2 separate regions of the Homo sapiens genome follow, and region 2 is linked to region 1. Evidence: fine-mapped expression QTL. A gene starts in region 1. The other region holds a variant in brackets. All regions are shown on one strand. Distances are from middle to middle.

Region 1 (2,913 bases):
AATGGGTAAACAAGTCCATAAGGATGTCCTAATTTTGGGATTTCATTCTAAAATATTACACTAGAAAGCTAATTATACAGACTCATTTGAATCTGACCAAACAAAACATCTTTTAACTACCCTTCCTCCCATTCTGGTATTTCTTTACTAATCCATAGAAAGTTTTTCCAGGTAGTCCCCCGCAATTCTAAGGATTTTTAGACTTTATGACTCACCTCAGTAATCACTGAGATGTTCTGTTTTCTTCAGCACAACTGCCAAAAAACCCAGTAATTGTTAAGTCACACAATCATTTTCTAGTTATGGGCGCCACCAATATAGCAGTAGGGTTTAAAACAGAGGTATTGAGGGTAACTATTAGGATCTATCCAGTGTGACTAGGTCACTCACTAGAAATGCCAACATGCATTTCACGTTTTTATGAATACTTTTGAGCAAAATTACTGTTACGAATAAAAAACTGATTCTGCTCGGCTGTTTTCTTACTGAGAAAATTTAGTCCACGTGGATTACTGACGATATGTCACATTTTAAAAATTACTCCATTCTATAAAACTAGTCAATTTTATACTCCAATTCCGCTATTTAAAAATGTGTGTTTCGTTTAACAGAATATAAGATGTTAACAGAAAAAGATCAACGTCTATCTTATCGGGGACGTCCTTTTGTCTAAGATGTTTTCAGTCCCTGCAAAACCACTGTTTGCTTTCAAAAAGTAGCATAAGCCTCGTGCAGAGTGACAGACCCTTGTCTAAGGTCACAGAAGAAGCGTCTGCGCTGGCAAGTAAATTCCTCAGCATCCAGAAAGCCAGCGCTTTCTCCAGTTTCCTCATAGCTTTATCCCGTGAGGAGCACGCGGAAACCTCTACCCATGCAGGATGTTTCTAAGAACCACTTCTTCCCTGTCTTAACTAAGAAGGCTCCCACAGCTGGTGCCAATCAGGTGGAGAACATGGCAAGTCCCCGAAATGCACTTCCAAAGACAGGAAAGATTGCAGTGGGACAGAACCCAGAAAATCTCTCACATTCTCGAAAACCCGAAAGAGAACCTCCAAGAAAGACGTTTGCCTCTCCTCCACCTCTTTATCTCGGCGGGAGAGGAAGCCTCGCCCCCATTCATCCCGCCCCTTCTCCCCACCCCGCCGCAGGGAGAAGTTTACCATGGCTGCCTGCGGCCCCTTCACTTCCGGTGCCGGTGCCGCTAGGGCTGCGCCATCCCCCCAGTCAATCGGACAACCATAGCCTCCAACTGACCTTTCTGACAGCTCTGAGACTCCTCCGGCCACGACTAGGTGCTGTCCTGGAGGAAACGGTGGAGGACGGCCGCACAAAAACCAATCTACCTGATGAAAACTCCGTTCCCTTCTCGCCAGAAACATAAAATGCGATGGAGCTACGGCCACCGCTGCCGAGACAAAATGGCGCCGACAAGCTGGTTTAGCGCAAGCGCCTTGGACAGACCCTGCCCCGCCCCCGTGCAAGCCCCTGGCTGCAATTCTGGGTTCCGTTTCCATGGGACACTCCGCCGCCAATCCTCGTGTCGAACTGCTCTTCCTGACCCCTCAATTCACCAATCAGTGCCCAGTCAAGCACATCCGGAGTCGTCTCTACCAATCATTTCTCAGGACTTGCTTACTCAATAACCAACTCTCCAATAAAGTTGGTTTTCGGAAAAAGCCAATCATAAGTGGAAGATGTCCTACCTGCTGTTTTTCTCACCAATCCATGAAGTTTCACAGCTACATCCAATGAGGACGGCAGGTAGCGAGGTCCTATCCGAAGCTCTTCGGCGTCATGAGCAGCCAATAGGAGTTCGTGTAGAAGCGAGTCTGCTCAACAGCTTGTTATTTGGTGGATTGTGGCAGTAAATCGGGGCGAGTGGGGAACCCGGCGCAGGAACTGCAGCCGCGGCTGGGAGTGGTGCTGCCCGGACGGGGGCCCACGGAGGTCAGAGGGGAGGAGGACTCTGGAGCTGACAGCGCGCACTTCACCCGCAGTTGGTAGGTGGGGAGAGGGGAATCCGGGGATACTGAATGGACGAAGTGGCAGTAGCAGCAGCTGCTGCTGCCCGAGGTCCCGGTGCAGTTGGAAGCTTTGGAGGTGGGGAGAGGGATGCTAGGCAAGTGGCACGGCGAGCGCAAGGGAAGGGGCCAGCCATTGACCAGCGGCAGCAACTGCAGGAACCGCCGCCGCAGTTGCAGCCGCCTCCTCGTCCGCTTCCTCGGGTTCCCGGGAAAATGGCTGTGGGGCTGGCCGCGCCGCTAAGTTTGCTTCCGCGCGGTGAAGAGCGGGCTGCTTGGGGGAGCCGTCCCCCAACTCCGCGGCGCGTCCACCTCTGCGGAGTCCGTGGCAGGACTCGAGGGGCTACGAGCTGATACCTCTCTGGGCTGTACAAAAAGTTGAGGCGGGCGCTGGGAGGAGGCAGCGGCTGCTGCGGTGCGGCTCCCCTCCCCTCCCACACCCTGTCCGGGCCACCTCCCCTCCTCCTCCCCTCCGCCCCCCGCCCCCTCCCCCACGCGGGTCCCCCGGGGCTCTGGCGGCTCCCGGCTGAAGGCCGCGGCCCCTGCCCCTTTGGGTGAAGGAGCGCTTCTCCTTTCTGACATGGTGCAGAGCGAAGGAAGGAGAGCAATGGCGCCGTGACACTCCGCTGCCGCCACCGCGGGCCCGGGGCGGGCCGAGGGGGCCGAGCGGCGGAGGCGGGGCGCGGGCCGAAGTCGGGGTATCCGGGGGACCGCGGAGCGGAGGCTCGGCGGTCGTCTCCGCGGGGGACCTGGGGAAGCCCGAAGGGAGCTCTGGCCTTTTCCGGAGCTATCTGTCCTGGAGCTCCGAGTTGAGCATTCCGGGTCAAAGTGGCCAGCGAGGCGGGGGCGCGGTGGGCCGCTGGCGAGCTCCGGGGCGGAACGGGCTGCCCTT
Region 2 (2,913 bases), 31 kb before region 1:
ATCCTAGCAAGGAATGGGAAAAACAATAAATCCCAGAGAAAAATCAAGAAAAAAAAATCACTTTAATTGAGGAACACTTTCAGTTTGTGACAAAATTATGCTGTGAATCAGGTGTTGCAAATTATGGCCCACTGCCTGCTTTTGTGTAAGTTTTATTGGAACACAGCTACATTCAGTCCATGGCTGCTTTTAGAATACAACAGTAGACTTTAACATTTGGAACAGGGAACAGAAACCAGAGCCATACAGCTAATAAACTTGAAAATATTTACAAGTTGATGCTTTACAAAATCCATCTGCTGACCCCTGCTCTGTACCATTGTTCTCTTCTGATGGTCTGTTTACTAAAAAATAAAAACTTCACAAACATGTAAAAAATAGATTTGCCATTTAAAATGTGCTTTTCAAGTTTGACTTTTTAGGATGCAATTAATTCACTAAATACAGAACTTAACTAAGGACAAAAATTTAAAGATCAGCATTCTTTCCCTTCCCATCACGCTCAACTTAACATGAAGAACTGTAAACATCCTAAGCTTACAACAAACCTATCTAGTTAGACTTCAGTTAACCACTTACACATCCCCCTCCCCCATGAACTATTTGGAAAAAGCTGCAGGCGTAATATTGGATCCCTAAATACTTTATTCTCCTTATACCATTATCAGACCCAAGTATCATCTAATAGTCCATAATCAAACTGCCTAAGCAGTTTCTACACTGTCTTTTTAACTATTTCAAACTATCAAGGTTCGCATTTTCTTCCTTAGAACTTTTAGTCTTTTTCTTCCCCAAAATATTTGAGTCCATGCCAGTTGCCTTTAGTTGTACCCAAATAATGGTTTGTCTATTTCCTAAAAGTAGTACTCTTAAATTTAAATTTAGTGTTATTTTTGTTGTCATTGTTCCTTCTTCCTCATGTGGTTGTGCAGGCAGAGCTTGAGCATCCAGATTTCAAAATTAAAAAATAAAAGATAATCTAGTTTAATATATAGTAGTTGAATCACCTTAAGTCTAGACTGCTGTATGAGCACCCATTATCTTTCACTATATTCCATCATCCCCCAACATATCCACAGTAGATGAAGGGCAGTTTGCTCAAACATTGTTTTGATCCTGTCATGTCTGTTCAGAAATGCCTGTCTATTCAGAAACCCACGTCTAATAACAAAATCTTGGACTGGTTACTATCAAAACCCAACAACATACAGACTCCTCAGCTAGGCCCTAGGGATATTTTTCTACCTTGATTTCCAAATGTTCATTGAAAGAATGCTTAATTCTAATTTGGAAAAAAGTTTTTGGC[T/G]TCCCACTTCTGCTTTACACGTTCATCTTTCTTGAAATCAAATCCAATCCAATCTATATTCTAAGAACCTGCTCAAATCTTGGTTCTTCAAAGCTTTCCCTGGTATTTTGCATTTTTGCTTTGAATAGTTCCACGAAGGATAACTTCTTACTCCTTCCTTCATCTTTCTGTATCTTGCATATAGTAAATATTAATGACTTGTTTGCATTTTGTTATCCTAACTTGGCTATAAAGAAAATCAGATGTCTTCACCAGTCGTTCAAACTTCAGGTCTGCCTACAGATTCATAGATGGCTGTGGATTTTTATAATTTTGTCACAAAGTTAGTGGTAACTACAGGTTATCTCAGAATATCTTTTTTGGCGTATAAATTTTTTTCTTTTCCTTTTTTAGACAGTCTCTCTCTCTGTCGCCCAGGCTAGAGTGCAGTGGCGTGATCCCGGCTCACTACAACCTCTGCCTCCTGGGTTCAAGAGATTCTTAGGCCTCAGCCTCCCGAGTAGCTAGGGTTACAGGCGCGCACCACCTCCATGCCCAGCTCTTTTGTATTTTTAAGTAGAGACAGGGTTTCACCATGTTGGTCAGGCTGGTCTCGAACTTCTGACTTCAGGCAATCCGGCCGCCTCGGCCTCCCAAAGTGCTGGGATTACAGGCACAAGCCACTGCACCCAGCCTGGAGTATAAATTTCAAAACATTAAAATATGAATCAGGAAACTTCGATTCTGGTCTTTTTCAGACTTTAGGTTATTTTCCTTGGTTTTATATCTGAGTATAAAAGTGAAAATAGTTATTACACAAGTGGAAAATGTTCTTCTGATGAACAGTATACATTTTATTTTCTATAGATGAAAGAAATGACCTGCCGTGATATCGTTAAAGAAGTTGCAAAAATGTAAGTTGAAATTTTTCTTACCATCCACAAAAATATTTCATTTGACCTTTGCATATATATATTACATTAATCCTAAGAAGCTGTTTTCCTGTAAAATAACTTAGTGTATAATTTTTAGAAGGTAAATTTAACATTCTAAGAAGCCTCACGAAGGAAGAAAATGTTTTTAAGCAATATTTTTTAGTAGTAATGAATAGGATGGGAAAAATAGCTTGACAAAATAAACTCCTGTTACAGGTTAAGGACATATACCATTAGGGTCTTAATTTGTTAGCTCCCAACTTCTCAAATCTCTTAAGTCCTAATAATAGTAATCTTAAGATTGCCTCTATTGTAAGAATGCTTACAAACTTTATAGGTTACAACTAATTATTTCAATACATGATCCATGAAGCTGGCTCATTTATATAATCTGCTATTTATTTGGGAAAGATATGTTTCACTTTTTCAGGTTTATTATAAAAGTTCCTATAACAAGGTAAGAAGAGCAGTATTACAAAACATTTCAACAACCAGCTTAAGAAACCCTGAATAGTTTATTACAGGTATATAAAGTAGAATACTATTAATATGTAACAGGTATTTGGACAGTAAACAATAAAAAAGTCAATTAACCTGGGTAGTGATGTTTCTAAAATTTTGTGATTCTCTAGATCAAAGAGTGTAGACATTTGGTATTACAAAAAGATTCCAACAAAATACGTTGTGTAGCCA

What was found. PIP is the estimated chance that this variant, and not a neighbour inherited with it, causes the effect.
Region 2: its variant is fine-mapped to the expression of PSMA3-AS1 in whole blood (TOPMed, PIP above 0.99). The same link has a PIP of 0.9 or more in sigmoid colon, tibial nerve, unexposed skin and visceral fat.

The regions. Positions count from the first base shown.
Region 1 is chr14:58,296,701-58,299,613 of GRCh38, forward strand. PSMA3-AS1 (PSMA3 antisense RNA 1) reads right to left here and starts at 1,437. Exons shown (of 4, transcript NR_029435.1): 1 at 1,255-1,437. ARID4A (AT-rich interaction domain 4A) reads left to right here and starts at 1,855. Exons shown (of 24, transcript NM_002892.4): 1 at 1,855-2,000. RefSeq lists enhancers at 1,085-1,808, 1,105-1,524, 1,545-1,594, 1,705-1,794 and a silencer at 2,425-2,913.
Region 2 is chr14:58,265,322-58,268,234 of GRCh38, forward strand. PSMA3 (proteasome 20S subunit alpha 3) reads left to right here. Exons shown (of 11, transcript NM_002788.4): 8 at 2,153-2,199. It overlaps PSMA3-AS1 (PSMA3 antisense RNA 1), which reads right to left. Exons shown (of 4, transcript NR_029435.1): 4 at 44-2,072. Among named protein-coding and RNA genes, the nearest start is that of LINC00216, 21 kb to the right of the region's middle. The variant T/G (reference allele first, on the strand shown) is at 1,307.